2 separate regions of the Homo sapiens genome follow, and region 2 is linked to region 1. A link means that fine-mapping ties the variant in region 1 to the expression of a gene that starts in the linked region. Tissue or cell type: esophagus muscle. Region 1 holds a variant in brackets; the other region holds the start of a gene. All regions are shown on one strand. Distances are between the middles of the regions.

Region 1 (8,322 bases):
TTCTTAGGGTCTAGTACTGTTCAGGCACTTGATAAATAACTGTTGAGTGAATAAATAGATGTCTTTCTCCATCAAGCCATCAAAAAATATTCCAAATAGTGTTTGTCTTTATAAGCTCAATTTACAGAACTTAACAAAGACCTCACTTAAATTTGAGTGATGTTCTATATTAAACTATGGGGACTAGGACATTCACAGGTGATTCTGTGTGATCATCATTATTATTATTATAAATGATGTTGTGACAAGAAGATGTTACTCACCAGTGAAATAACAACTTACATCAGGAAATTAGAGCAGAATAGTCTCTCAGCTGAGCCATTGTTTGCTTATTTATTACTGGTGTTCCATATTTGGACAATATCTGCCTTCCACTTCATAGTGGAAGTAGAGTACTTTTAGTGCTCTGATTTCAATGAGTGTTCAGTACCTGGGAACATATTCCTAAGAGGCCTACTAGTCACTCATTGTAGAGAGTAAATTATATATAATTATTTCCATAAACATTTACCGACTTCATTTATGTGTGGGATAATGTACTAGGTCCTATTGAGTTTGTCCAATGATTAGGAAAGAGATTAGTCATCAAACTAAACAAAGAAAAACCCAGTTTAGCCACAACACAAACCACTCCACCTTCTTCAATACAGTTTAGAATATTTTTATTCAAGTGCATTCTGCAATATTTAAATAATGTGCATGAAGGGAAAAAACAGAAAATCTGGAAAATTTTATTATTCAGTTGGAATATGCTAGCATGTTTGTGTTAATACAGTAGCTACCTTTAATTATTGGTTAATTTAAACTACTTCTCATTCTTTTATCTTAGCTCTTTTTTTCCCTCCTAAGGACTTTAATGTGACTACATCTTGGAATGACTTCCTGCCTTTGCAGGAAACAGGCAGCTTCCTGACTGAGACGGAAGTTACTAGTCCTTATTGCCGGTTCGTTTTCATTGTCCTGGTTGCCCTCAAGGTTATCCCCAACCTCAGCTCCAGTTGTCTGTTTCCCAAATTTGACTGGGCTTCCTTCATACTATATTGCATGACAAGGTCTAGCAAAAGATTAGCTCAGTCTCAACTCTGTAAAAATGGTTTGCCATTTACACTTCTTTCTTTCAGCTTCACAGAAGTGCAGTCTGTGCACTCACACAGGATACCACACTCAGATGAGCTGCATGCTGTCATTATTTTGAAATGTTTAATGATTTTATCTTTGAACTTGTGTTTTACAAGTAAAGTCCAATGGGACCATGAAGTATGCATTATGCATAATAGCAAAGAGGATACGTAGAAGAAAGAAGAAAGCTTTATATTTTAACACTTCCTTTGTGCTTGTTCAACAAGAGGCCCTGCAGTTCCATTTTGAACTGGGCTTCACAGATGATGTAGCCAGTCCTGCTCTGAGGAGAAATATTGGAAAATGGGATCCAAACTAGAATTTCTCCTAAAGAAAACGTCAGAGAACTTGACTTTCAAAACTGCTCTTTGAATATCATCAAAAGTTTTGCTATAGTGAATCTTTATGATAAATACAGTACCTATCTAGTAAAGCAATTTAATTATCGCAGGCTGTACTAATAACCATAATAAACTCCACTCCAATAGTATTCTACGTAGACAAGTCTTCCAGCCTCGGGCCTCTCCTCATTAAACTGCAATTAGTATGATAAATGGAGAGTGTGATTTTGCTGCAGCCAGTATTAGCCCTACTTACTCATGAGGTGACAGGGGAAGCCATCAGAGACAGAATTAAAAATATTTAAATAACAAGGAAAATGGTAGGGTTTGCTGCCTTCTGGCCATTAGTCCAACACATCTGTGTGCAGGTACATCTCACACATTTCAGCTGTAACTGATGAAGATCTCAGATAAGCACTGATGTTAATAGCAGTTAATACAACCCAGTGACTAAACATAGTCTGTCCTTGGAAGGTCATAAGTGTTGTGAGAATTCAAGATGACTATAATCTTAACAAAGCATTAATGGGCAATCTGACTAAATAAGATGGCTGCTATGGAGGACTTCTAAAACACTGTGCATTCTTAATCAGGTGATGAGATATTTCACATTTGCTAATGGTATAGTCCCCACGGCATTGTAGTACCACATATATTAACATTTATTTAATTTAAAATGCATCCCTTAACAAGAACGCTTTGGTGGATATGGCTTTATTGAAACCTAAAGCTAAAACATATTACATAATTGGATTCTAATCTGTGAAGGCATGCTATACTCCAGTAATCAGATTTCCGGAGAATCCCTGTATCCTTGCAGTATACTCAGTTTTAATCTGAGTTTCTCTGAATAGGTTTCTGTTCCTTAACATCAAATATTCCTCAAGGAAAGATAGGTTGAAAATTATAATTTTAATAAATAAATACTGAGGGGAAGAATACCTTACACAAAATACTCTGTCACGTTCTGCTAGATTTTTAAATTCTTTTAAAAGAAGTACCATCTACTATATTTGATTTTACTTGGTCAATGCTAGAAATGATGGTTATTTTTATTTTGTTCTCATCCAAATATTTTATCACCAAATGGAGAGGGCTACCTTGGCTTTGGGTTGCATTGATTCACCATTAAAGTTTATTGTAAATGTGATTTAAAAAAAAAAAAAAAAGGTATAAATCCACATTTTATTCAGATTTTTGTGTCCTTTAAAATAAAACACTAAAACATAGTGTGTCAAGGACTATAATCTCTTGCAAATGACCCCAAGCCTGTGTGTCCAGTCCTGACATTTGTTTCTGAGATCTGCACCCAATTCCAAGCCCTCTACCAGGACCTCCATTCACAAGAGGCTTCCAAGTGATCTTCATCCTTTGTTTTCTCAGTTCACTAAAGAGCAGCAAGCTAGGATTCATCTTGATTGCCTCCTTTTCCAAAATTTATTTAAATTTTGTCATCAAATCCTGTCAATTCTGCCTCTAAGACATCTATCACATTCTCTTCTTTGGCACTCCCACAGACATAGTGGGGAGTTATCTCTATAGGTTCTGTTTTTAGATTTATCAATATTTCCCTCCCTCATAGAATTGCCATCTCCACTACTGTTACTGATCTTGATACTGTACACTGCCACTACATCTTTACTTTGTACTTATGGGATATACAAATATTTCAATTAACTATGACTTCAAGATTAATGCATAGATTACTTAACTAAATTACTACTTAAACTTTATGTATTAACATCATTAGAATATAAAAATATTTATCAAAACAGAAAGACCTCTGTACCTGTTAATAGTATGTATTAATTTGAGCCTCAATTCTCAAAATAAAAACAAAAATTAATGGTGAGATGAAGAATAAGATGATATTTACTATCTATGCAGAGCATTTCCCTTGTGCCAGGCATTGTGTTAAGGATTTTACATATATTATCTCATACAATCTTTGTAAAAACCTAGTGAAGTAGCTTATCCGTCAAGTGCACGTTTTAATCATACTTTGTCTTCTACATACGAAGAGAAACACTGGTGTCTGCTAGCTGATCTGAAGCATCAGAGCTTGTCTTGAAAGTTTGCTGCTTTTAGTGACAAATGTTTCTCATCACATGCTTACTCCTATTATTCCAGTTAGGGCCTTATCGCTTCAGATCCTGTTGGCCTTAGTGAAGAAAAGTTCCTGCAAGAGGCATACTACCTTGCTTTGTGTGCCTTCATTCCATCAGCTTTCACATCCTGCCCTTCCCCTGGTACCCAGCAGCAGGGTTGAAAAAAGGCCA[G/A]GGGGTACATGGTGCGATAGACACTTGGTGTGACTCATCCTCTGAGAGTTTGAAGTATGGAAAATTTGCTTATGCCAGTCATTGCTATCCTTCTATCTCCTTAAGAACGATGAATCTGTATAGATGGATCTCTCACTGTAGCAGGCCCAGAGCAGAGTTTTCTTTTTTCCAACTTGCTTTTCAAATAATTTTTACTCTTTTTCTTTTTGAATATGTCAGAAAACACTTGGAACAACAACAACAACAAAAAAAAACACTGAATATTCTTTACTGATGTTTCCTCATGATCTCAAATGCATTATGCCTATCCATACTCTATTAACACGTTCAAACTGTTTGTCATTACATTTCATTAGGGGACAACATTCAATCTTGACTCATAAGTACAACTGCATTGGAAAGCAAATGGGGTAGAAAGGGAAGAAAAGACTTACTATGGCTGGCCACTAGCCCTTCCTCTTAATGTTCTTCAAGCCAACTTTGACTGGATTTTTCAGGCCTCAGCAAGAGGTTATACACTGTACTTAAGTATCCATTTATCCTCCCTTACGCTTCACCCTCTAAGAACACTAAATGCTTGTAGTTTTTCTAACATGCCAAGCTTTTTCATATCTTGGTACCTCTGCAAATACTGTTTCCTTTGTCTGGAATATTTTTCTCCCCCTTTTTCACCTGGTAACGTTAAAGACACTTGAAAATCTAGTACAGATGACTTTCCTTTTAATCAACTTCGTCCTGGAAAGTTAATCACATTTTCAGTGATTAACTTGTAGATATGAAGTACTATTGATACATATATCACTTGGGTTATAATGTCCTTCTTTGTATGTCCATTTCTATTTCTTCTTGAGAGTAGAGCCCATTCCTAGTGTAATTCCCTGGCACTTAGTAGTTCCAAAATTTACAAAAATTTAGTTGCTGAATACCAACTAAAAAAAATCTGAAATTACATCAATGTTAGGTTGTAGATTTTTATTTTCCTATGCTGGACAATATAACCTTTTCAGTGCAGAGATACTGTTTCCCCTCTATTTGCTCCACTCACTAGAACTAAAGTACATGCAATGTCCAAGAGGACTGGTGATAGGTAATTACTCTTGTCAGGTGCTTTCGACTAGCATCAAAATCAGGCCCTTTATAGCACATATTCATATAAATGACAGCTCAAGTCAAACCTATCTATCTCCCGAAATAGATGAAACCATTTCCCACCCTTCAAACATTCTTTTCTCTTCTCTAAGGTTACGTCAAAAATCATCATCATTAATAGTCAACATGTCCACTTCACTCAATGAAACTTCCAAAGAATTTGTTATTCTTTTAGAATTCTATACGAAATAACATCCTTCCAAAGCAACTACGAAGCTCCAAAGAAAACACGGTGGAAAAGATACCTGTCATTAGCAGATATCTACCAATATTGTCATCAGTATTATCACTGTTATCATTGCATAATAAAGGCCTTTGTTATCAAATTACTTCATTTGAATTAATATGAAATCACTCATGGCATTTTTTCATTCATTCACCGATTGATTTATTCCTTTTCTTGCACCTCACCTCCCTCATAATTTTTGACACCTTATAACTTTTTTTTAAACTGGAAAAGTATAATTAGATGACACAACAAGAATTAAAACACATACTCACTAACACTCTCTCTCTCTCTCTCTCTCTCTAATTCTGATGAAAGATGGAAACCATGTTAACTTCCAGTTCTGGTGAAACTTTTGACTGTGAAATACATTTATGGAATTCTGTAAGGCCTCTGTAAAATGTGGCAAAATCAAGCAAGTTTCTCAAAAACCATGTAGGATATCTAGTTAAGTAAAAGGATAAGAAAAAAAGTATCTTTATAAAATGGGAAGACTGACATTATGTCTATTATTAAACAGTGCTTCTTGTTGGAAGAACAGATGATATTCTGAGAGAAATAAACACTCTTGTCCATTTTTATATCATGAACAAACTAATATTTCTAGGGAAGAGGAAAGATGGTCCTTCACGTTCTCTTTGAAACAGGAATATTCCCACTATACAGAAGAATTGTATTTTAGAAAGACAATTTCATGAACTAAGGCTGAAAATCTCCCAGACCATGGCTGCTATGACTTCTCAAATCAGCAATCATGCACAGAAAAGAGTGCTAAAAGAGACCCCTCTCTTTTCTTCCCATCCTCAGCCTTTTTCTCTCTATACTTTTCAAAAGCTCACAGACAGTAAATACCCACACAAAAGAGGAATCACAAATGACAAATTAAAGGTAAGTTTCTCGCATTTGCCAGAGAGGATTTAGAAAATGTGCCACAATTTTATACAATGCTGGTGCAGCAGGTGAGTCTAGAAAGTCATTTTGGTTTTCGATTTCAGAAATAATTCTGTTTTATACTGGCAGATTAACACTCTTCCAAAGATGACCAAAGTAAGGCCCAGAATTAAGTCATAGTTGTACCTCTTCTGCTCCTTTTTCTGTCTTGCTGAATTTAATAATTTACTCTTCAACATTCCACTAAAAGTATTGCCAATTTTATTAGTCTTTAAATCGGCCAGAAAAAGACATACCACCCAATAGCAAAATAGCCAAGAATTCAAACAAGAATGAAAAGGGGTATTTAAATACCCAACGAATATGTGTGAAGGTGTTCTGAGTTGCTAATCATCAGAGAAATGCAAATTAAAACCACAACGAAATATCACCATATACTGAATAGAATGACAAATTTTTAAGAAGACTGAAAATCTAAAATATTATGAGGATATGAAGTAAGTAGGAATTCCATAAACTCTTGGTAGGATTGTAAATGGACTCAACTACTTTGTAAAACTGACACTTTCGTCAGCACCTACACAAGTGGAACACAAGCATATATATATTTTCAACTGAAATATGTACAAAAAAATCCATGCACAGGAGTGTTAATTGCAGCTTTCTTCATAACAACCCAAAACAAGAAACAACATAAATGTTCTGCCACAGTAAAATGTATAAATATTTGTGGTAGGATCAACCAACGAAATGTTATATAGAAATAAACATTAATGATATACTGCTATACATAGAAAATACATGAAATACACAACATAATGTTGTTGGAGAAGCCAGACACAAAAGAATACATACCTGACCACTTCGTTTACGTAAAGCCCAAAAAAGTGAAACTATTCCATGATGTTAGGAGTCAGGATGGTAATCTTTGGGCAGGAAGGGGTGGTGGTGATCAGAAGGGGCGACAAAGGGGGCTTCTGGAGTGTTGTTCATGGTCTGTTTCTTGTTCTGCATAGTACGGTTACACACGTGTTTTTACTTTATAAAACTTACTGATGAACACTTTTGCTTCACTGCTCTCTATGTATGTTATACTTCAATTAATAAGTTTATTTAAAAAGAAAAGAGAGACCATGACAAGTACTACTTATACACTAAGTTTGTGTGAAATACTTTTTTTTTTTTTTAACTGTTAATCTCCAGATAGTCCCTTTAAATCCTTTTCCTCTCCCCCTAACCTCCCCAATTCCCACTTTATTTGACTCCAGCTATGATGATTTCTCCCCTGGCAGCAGCAGCCTGTAGCCCAGCCAATGTTCTTGCCTGCAGTCTGGTCTCAGTCCTATTCATTTTCATTCTTTACTTTGCAAATAGGATATTTGTATTTTTAAAAACATCCTGTATACAAAATAGTGTGACAATAAATGTACAGTTTAGCGAATATGAACAGAAAATAATTTCGCAAAATCAACACCTTTCTACTTACACCATCCTGCTTAAGCAACAGACACTAGTTTTTTCAAATCTGTTGTCCCTTGACAATCCCAATCTCCATCTTTGCATCAGAGGTATTCAATATCCTGAATTTGGTGTTAAACATCTCCTTGCTTTTATTTATAGTTTTATAACATAAGGTAGTAGTTGTAAACTAAATATCAACACTAACTAAAAATAGTTTGAGCAATATTTTGTTTGGTTTTCCTTGTTTTGATTTTTTTGTTGTTTTACTTGTTTTGAAATTTAAGTTATGGAATCTCACAAGTGTATTCGGCTGTAAGCTTTTTTTTTTCTCACTGGTATATTGGTATGTTACTGAGATTAATCCACCCAGATGCCTGGGCCTTTATTCCATTCTTTTTTCACTGCTGAACAATATCCATTGTATAAGTACACTACAAATTACTTATTATATTTTTAATATGTGTATTGTTTTCAGTCTTTTTGTCATTTCAAATAGCAATCTTATGAGCATTCTTTTGTGTACCTCTTGAATATGTACAAGAGTTTGTAGGTTATACATCTAGGAATGGAACTACTGGGTCCTCAAGTATGCACATTTTCAAATTTACTAGGTAATGCCAAATTATTTTACAAAGTAATTGAACCAAAATGATTCCCCGTTGTCTGCATCTTTACTTAGTGTTGTCATTATTTTTAGTCATTCTAGTTAGTGTGTAATTTTATCTAAACATTTCCATATATTCAATGGCATTTCATTTGAATTTCCTCTTCTATGAAAATACTAATCATGTAATTTGCTCATCTTTCCCCCTCACCGTAGCCTTTTTCATGTTGATTTCTGACAGTATTTATATAC
Region 2 (8,000 bases), 770 kb after region 1:
TTACTGTCTTCCATGTGCAGATAAACACACTGAGGCTCAGAGAGGTTGAATAAACTTACCAAGGCCACAAGGCCAATAGATGGCAGAGCTCCTATTTGAATTTAAAAATACCTGACTCCACAACCTGTGCTTTTAACTACCATCAGTGGTGGTTCTTAATTTGCCCATTTGTGAAACCTATTTGTGCCCATTTGTGAAACCAAAAATGCTTGGGGCCTCCCAAAAACCTATTGAAACATCATTTCTAAGCCAGGCACGGTGGCTCATGCCTGTAATCCCAGCACTTTGGGAGGCCGAGGCGGGCGGATCACGAGGTCAGGAGTTCGAGACCAGCCTGGCCAGCACAGTGAAACCCCATCTCTACTAAAAAAATACAAAAAATTAGCCAGGCATGGTGGTGTGTGCCTGTAATCCCACCTACTCGGGAGACCGAGGTAGGAGAATTGCTTGAACCCGGTAGGCGGAGGTTGCAGCAAGCTGAGATCATGCCACTACACTCCAGCCTGGGTAACACAGCGAGACTCCATCTCAAAAAAAAGAAGGAAACATCACTTCTGGGCCTGTAATCACAGCACTTGAATGGTTTTGTTGGTTGGTTGGTTGGTTTTGTTTTTTTGTTTGTTTGAGACGGAGTCTCACTCTGTTGCCCAGGCTGGAGTGCAGTGACGCAATCTTGGCTCACTGTAATCTCCGCCTTCCAGGCTCCATCAATTCTCCTGCCTCAGCCTCCTGAGTAGCTGGGATTACAGGTGTGCACCACCACGCCCGGCTAATTTTTGTATTTTTAGTAGAGACCGGGTTTCACCATGTTGGTCAGGGTGGTCTTGAACTCCTGACCTCTAGTGATCCGCCTTTCTTGGCCTCCCACAGTGTTAGGATTACAGGCGTGAGCCACCGCGCCCAGACAGAATGTTTTTAAGCTCCCCAAGTGTTTCTGAGGTGCATCCTGGATTTGGAACCTGCCCCCTGTCTCTGATGGTTTTGTATTATTAATATGGGCTACTGACTCCAGCTGGATGGTAAGTATCTTGAGGGCAGGGCCCCCACCTCAAGCTTCCTTGTTGATGTCACTGTGATATCACAATGTCTGCACAAATATCATTGGATGAAAGGATTCAGAGCAACTGCCACCCAGAATGTCAGTTGCCAGGGAGCTCCAACAGAACTGAGGGACGAACAGTAGGTGCCTGAGAGCTGGCCGATCTGGTCACTCTCTCCAGTGGGCCACAGGGGCCCACTTGGTGGGCAGTCTCTGCTGCCAGCTAGGGCATCTCAGCTCAGCCCAGAGCAAAGACGTGTAGGGACATAACGCTTTCCTCAAGCTTCCTTTCCCAGGTCCAAACTTAGAGGCCCAGTTTTGGGCCTAGAATTCACTGAGGTTTGTGGCTGTTTGTCCAACAGTCACCATGGATCACCGAAGCCGACTACGGGGCACAGGCCTGAACCGAATCCCTGGGACTCAGTCCCGAGCCCCCCGAGTCCCACTCCCCTTCCACGTGCAACAGGAGGCCAGGGAAGGAGAAGACTGGGAGCGAGAGCCACCTCGTCAGAGGCCTCCTATCTATGAGCCACCAGAAAGTGAAGAGCTGCCAGATAATGTTATGGGTAAGGACACACCCTCCCTCAGCAGAAGGAGGCTGGCATCATCTTTTTCATCCTTTACCTCCAGGAAGCAGGGGCCGGGAGGCAGAAAGCAGAGTATACAGTGGGCAGAACTAGGGTGAGGGATGAGTTTGGAAAGGGGAAATTTTCTATCTGCCACAAAAGATTGTTTCACAAGGAGTAAGGATAAAATATGTGAAAGCAACTTGAAACTGAGGCTGTCTGCAATATTAGGTGTTATTTATAAAATCAGGTGTTTGCAATGTCAGTTGCTTACTGTGGGCCAGGTTCTTTGGGAAACAAAGACCTATTACACATTGATTTCAGCCCCAGACAGCCCACAGTCTAGTAGAGGAAAGACAAACTTAGGATGGTTTCTGCAGGATTCAGAAAGATAACAGGTGCTTACAGAAAACAAACTTAACATGTTCTCACTTAATTGTGGGAGCTAAAAATTAAAACAATTGAACTCATAGAGATAGAGAGTAGAAGAATGGTTACTAGAGGCTGGGAAGGGTAGTGGGGGGCTGGGGAGGAAAGTGGGGATGGTTAGTGGGTACAGAAATATAGAATGAATAAGACCTAGTATTTGATAGCACAACAGGGTGACTATAGTCAATAACAATTTAATTGTATACCCTAAAATAACTAAAAGAGTATAATTGGATTGTTTGTAACACAAATGATAAATGCTTGAGGTGATGGATAACCCATTTGCCATGATGTGATTGTTACACACTGTGTGCCTGAATCAAAATATCCCATATACCCCATAAATATATATATATACATATACATATATATATACATATACCTACTATGTAGCCACAAAAAATTTTTTTTAATTTAAAAAGAAAGATAACAAGCACTTGCAGGAGGACAGAGGGCACCCTGGGATCATACAGGCTCATGCCTGTAATCCCAGCACTTTGGGAGGCCAAGGTGGGCGGATCACAATTAGCTGGGCATGGTGGCGCGCACCTGTAATCCCAGCTACTCGGCAGGCCGAGGCAGGAGAATTACTTGAACCTGGGAGGTGGAGGTTGCAGTGAGCCGAGATTGCCACTGCACTCCAGCCTGTGCGACAGAGCGAGACTCTGTCTAAAAAAAAAAAAAAAAAAAAAAACAACCTAACACAGGGTTAAGTTGCAACATTGCCTGTTTGCCCCATAGTTCCTTTCCAGCTGGAAGAGAAGAAATGGTCTAGGGATATGGCTTTTCAGGTTAGACTTTTCTTCTCCAAGTTTTCTGGGGACCTGAAAAGGGCTCCGACTTGAGAGAGGAGTCATGGCTGTTCACAAAGATCACTGCAAGGAAAAGAATAAGAAATGTCTGTTAGAGGGATAAAACGCGAGCTATTCAGAGGCAGAAAGGTCAGTTTCCCTTTGAGGGGCGGGGGTGGCGTGGGATGAGGAGGCTTTTTGGGAGAGATGGGCGTGGAAGGATGTCTAACAAGTGCTGGCGGCGAGGGTCGTTGGCACTTCAATGGTGGGAAGACAGCCATGGGCGAAGCTTTGTGGAAGAAATAGGTGTGAAGGATGAGAAGGCCTACAACAGTGCTGAGGGCGCGAGGCCAGTCACCTGCGAAGTTTTGTGTACAAGATGGGCCCAGAAGGATGAACAGGGTCTAAAACAGTGCTGAGGGTGGGAGTGCAGAAGATCGGTCACAAGTGACGACACAAGGTGGTCTTAGTCCAGTTGGTGGACGCTCGGTGGCCTGGGCCTGCCCCCAGTGCGCAGACGCACACGGCAGGTTGCAGCGGCAAGCGGGGCGGTGCCCACGGCGGGGAGATGGGTGGGGAGGGCAGGGAAAAGGCCAGGGGTTGGGTGATGGGGTAATTGTCAGAAAAAGGAACAACACTGCTGGGAGAGTTTTCTGGTAACTTTTCAAGTCTTCATTTAAATTAAAAAAAAAAAAAGCTGTCTTTGAAACAATAGATTAGGTCACTAAAAACTGCCTGTACGCCCTTGCATGCTGGAGGAAAGTAAATGGTTAGACCTACCCTCCCTAAGTTTTTCCAGGACTTAAAAGAGCTGCAAGTAGTGCAGATCATGGCCCCGTTCACACAAATCACTTCAAGAAAAAAAATTAGTAAATGTCTATTAGATCTTGAAACTTATTCCTGTCTATCTGGAACTTGGTAACCTCTGACCAACAACTAACTCCCCATTCCTTCCCTCTCGCCTCGCCTTCCCTACTTCCCAACCTCTGGTAAGCAGCAGGGTAAATACAGTCAATAATAATGTATATTTCAAAATGAATAAGAGTAAATTTGAAATGTCTCACCATAAAAGTCATAGGTAAACAAGGCGATGGATAAGTTAATGTGATGTAATCATCCCACATTGGATACATATTTCAAAAAATCACATTGCATCCCACGAATGTATACAATTATGATTTGTCAAGTAAATATAATTTTTAAAAACGTTAAGTGACTTTTTAAAAAGCTTATTAGAAGTATAAAATGCAAGCCATTCACAAGCATATAGGTTAGATTCCGCTTGTGAGGGGCTTGTGTGCAGTGGTGAGGCTTTGTGGAAGAGATGGACGTGGAAAGATGTCTAAAACAGCGCGGAGGTCAGGAGACCTTGTCGCTGCCTTCACAGAGTTGGGCAACGCTCCCGGTCCTGGTCAGCCGCGGGACGCAGGCGCAAATGCAGGCTTGGGATGGGGGAGGTGCGGCCGGCGCCCACGTGGCGGGGCGGGGAGCAGATAGGGGGGGTAGGGGGAGGAGCTGGTCTCGCGAGGCCGCGCCCCGGTTCGCGCGGGCGTCGTGCACGCGGTTGTAGCTGCCCGGCGGCGGCAGAAGCGGCGCTCGCGCCAAGGGACGTGTTTCTGCGCTCGCGTGGTCATGGAGGCGCTGCCGCTGCTAGCCGCGACAACTCCGGACCACGGCCGCCACCGAAGGCTGCTTCTGCTGCCGCTACTGCTGTTCCTGCTGCCGGCTGGAGCTGTGCAGGGCTGGGAGACAGAGGAGAGGCCCCGGACTCGCGAAGAGGAGTGCCACTTCTACGCGGGTGGACAAGTGTACCCGGGAGAGGCATCCCGGGTATCGGTCGCCGACCACTCCCTGCACCTAAGCAAAGCGAAGAGTAGGTGGTGTCCCGCCAAAGGGTGGGAGGGGAGATTCCGGAGACACGTGTACCCCGGTTACACCCCCGGAATCTGGGCTTGGGCGGCACCCCCTGGGCTGCCTCCGGGCCCTGGGCGGGCCTGGTTCTCACCTAGGAGGGCGGGGAGGGGAATAAAGGGGAGTTCTAGCTGTGAAGAAAGGTATGGTTTCCACTGATCAGATTTTAGAAGAGGTAGTGGTTACCCCAAAAGCCGCAGCTGAGGGAAAGTGGGTGGCCCTAGTCCCGAGTTTGCATCGAGGATGTTGGGCAAACTGAAACAGTTCCTGAAACATCTCAAAGTGCCTTCAGCACATCCTGTCTTTTTCAGGTACTATTTCAGCGAAGGAAGACATTGATAGGTTGAATAATGATTCACAAAAAGTTTGATTAAACAGAAAAGTTGCTAAACACAGTGCTCGGGAGGTCAAACATTTCATTTTTCTTTCTTCCTTTTTGTTTGCATCTTACAAAGATTATTACTGAAAGCCACCTTCCCCAAAGCCTGTGTAGTTAATGGATATTCCTTATGTTTCTCAGACATGAAGAACCTATTACAGAGTGTACTTTTGAGGGAAATGGGGGAAAAGGTTAGAAGTATGCATTTGGGTTGATGATAAACCTCGTGGCAAATTTGTGTCCTGCCAATTTGGTTTTTGATTATTTGCATTTCTGTCCAGTGTACAAAGCTAATGGCCACTTTCAGGAATGACACGTCAGACGAAGTAGATACTGTGAAAGTTGTAGCCTGCTACATCTGGATGTTAAAATTAACCAAAAGTGAACAGTGGCTATAGATAAAGGCTGTCTCTTGCTTGCTATTCAGTAACCTGCTTTTCCTGCAGATCATTTGACATTCTGTAGGTGTGTAGTTGGTTTTTATGGTTCAGTTACAGCATGTTCCATGCCAGTATTCAGTGAAAAAAGTAATGCTTCAAATTCTGAATCCCTAGAGTTAAATGGAATGTTGTTATGACTTAGGATGGGTTGGTTGGGAGTGATAAATGAGAAAAACTGTTTTGTCCTCTTAAACATTTACAGTTCTTACTTGCTGAAAGTAAGTACTTTCAGTTAACCACTTTGGGACTTTTTTTTTTTTTTTATTTGAGATGAAGTCTTGCTCTGTCACCCAGGCACCCAGGCTGGAGTGCGGTCGCGCGATCTCGGCTCACTGCAACCTCCGCCGCCCGGGTTCAAGCGATTCTTCTGCCTCAGCCTCCCAGGTAGCTGGGACTACAGGCGCGCACCACCACACCCGGCTATTTTTTGTATTTTTAGTAGAGACGGGGTTTCACTATATTGGCCAGGCTGGTCTGGAACTCCTGACCTCATGATCCGCCTGCCTTGGCCTCCCAAAGTGCTGAGATTACAGGCGTGAGCCACGGTGCCCAGCCTACTTTGAGATTTTTAACAAAACCAGTCTTAAATTTTAAAATCAGTATTTCCAAGTCCCACTGGTTTTACTTGCCTGGGAAAGTATTTTAAATATGTCAGCCAGTTAAGTGTTTACTTACATTACATATATTTTCCATAGGAAACAAATCTACTTCAAAGCTTTCCCTTTACCAGCAAAACTTAACATTTTAGTTGTTTACTACATTTCTCTGTCACATGTAGGCTTATCTATAATTAAAGATACAAAGACTTTTGTTAGTAAAGACTATTATGGAGCCATTAAGGCCATATTTTCAAATAATTTTTAGTAATATCAAAAACTGTTCATAATTAATTTACTGTTTCCTTTAAGGAGAAAAAAAAGGCGGGATGCAACACGTGGCAAATTTGTGTTTAAAAAAGAACGGAAAGGCCAGGTGTGGTGGCTCACGTCTATAATTTCAGCACTTTGGGAGGCCGAGGCCATCCGATCACCTGAGGTCGGGAGTTCGAGACCAGACTGGCCAGCATGGTGAAACCCTGTGTCTACTAAAAATACAAAAATTAGCCGGGTGTGATGGCGCATACCTGTAATCCCAGCTACTGGGCAGGCTGAGGCAAGAGAATCCCTTGAACCCGGGAGGCGGAAGTTGCAGTGAGCCCAGATCACACCACTGCACTCCAGCCTGGGCGACAGACTGAGACTCTTGTCTCAAAAAAAAAAAAAGTAAATAACTAAAATTAAAAAAAATAAGACTAGAAAGACAGACATCAGAATGTTAACAGTAGTTGATGGGAGTTATGGAGAGAGAGGATTTAAGTATTCTTTGTACTTCTCTGCATTTACCAGAATCTTTATGTTAATTACATAATTTATATTCAAGACAATTTTTGTTTTTTTAATAAATGCAAGGGATTGCTTTGGGAATTCCATTTATAGATCTTAGCAAAGTAACTACCATTCTTAACCAAATATTTCCAAAATCAATTTTCAGAACAAAATTTATTTTTCAAATATGGTTTTCCCAGTATGCTAAAATCATTAAGGCGTGTCATTGTAATAGATCATTACAATTATTATAACCTCTCACTTGAGTAGCATTTTAAGTAATTTATTTAAAGTATATATAATTGAATACTCTTCTGCTGTCTATTTCTCCCTCCTGGCCTTTACCTAATCAGATCAGGATTATATATATGAGGTAGGATGCTGGCTCAAGATAAGTAATCATATGTTATATATTAATTTTTAAGAGAAATTCATGTTGTTTGTCTCTATTTTGGAGTGACCATAAATGGTGGCTGTTACAGAGAAGTATAAGCCTTACTTTCTAGGACCCTTAGCCAAACTTAGAAGCAAGCATTGACTTCAGTGTTTGTAAGGGGTCTGAAAGTATAAGTGCTATCTGAATGTGTTAACAGAGCATGAAGGTGCATTAGTATCTAAGTGTGTTGGCTAAAATTACTGTACGCCCTTACAAGAGAGCAGCATGAACTGTTCAGTTTCCATTGGGTCACTTGAAACCTGTTCAAGGGAGTCTTCTTTCAAAGCCCTCTAGGAAAATGATCCCATGGTCTGGGATTTTACACTTCTGGCCTGACATATTTGTACATTCCCTCCTCATTTTGTGTAGCCTCATCTGCAGCAGGTCCTCCATGTGTATGTCAGAAGCTGGACAAACTAGTACATCTGGAAGACTGCCATTAGAGAAAGGAAAATCTAATTATTTGAAATGTAGGAAGTTGACAACTTGAAGCGGGACTATAGTGAAGTATCCAGGAGGGTTTAGTGCAGGGTAGAATTTAAGGGGTCTGTGAGCATGAATAGGGGAAAAAAGTATTTATTTTCACTAATCCCCATCTGAAATTTAGTGTTTCCTTCTATTATGAATGTCAGCAACAAACTACAC

Evidence for each region. PIP is the estimated chance that this variant, and not a neighbour inherited with it, causes the effect.
Region 2: it holds the start of PRDX4, and the variant in region 1 is fine-mapped to the expression of PRDX4 in esophagus muscle (GTEx, PIP above 0.99).

Annotation. Positions count from the first base shown.
Region 1 is chrX:22,889,044-22,897,365 of GRCh38, forward strand. All of the region lies in intron 3 of PTCHD1-AS (PTCHD1 and PHEX antisense RNA), which reads right to left. Among named protein-coding and RNA genes, the nearest start is that of DDX53, 110 kb to the right of the region's middle. The variant G/A (reference allele first, on the strand shown) is at 3,740.
Region 2 is chrX:23,663,114-23,671,113 of GRCh38, forward strand. PRDX4 (peroxiredoxin 4) reads left to right here and starts at 4,380. Exons shown (of 7, transcript NM_006406.2): 1 at 4,380-4,698. The coding sequence starts at 4,458. RefSeq lists enhancers at 1,361-1,895, 4,139-4,433 and silencers at 4,183-4,362, 4,713-4,842.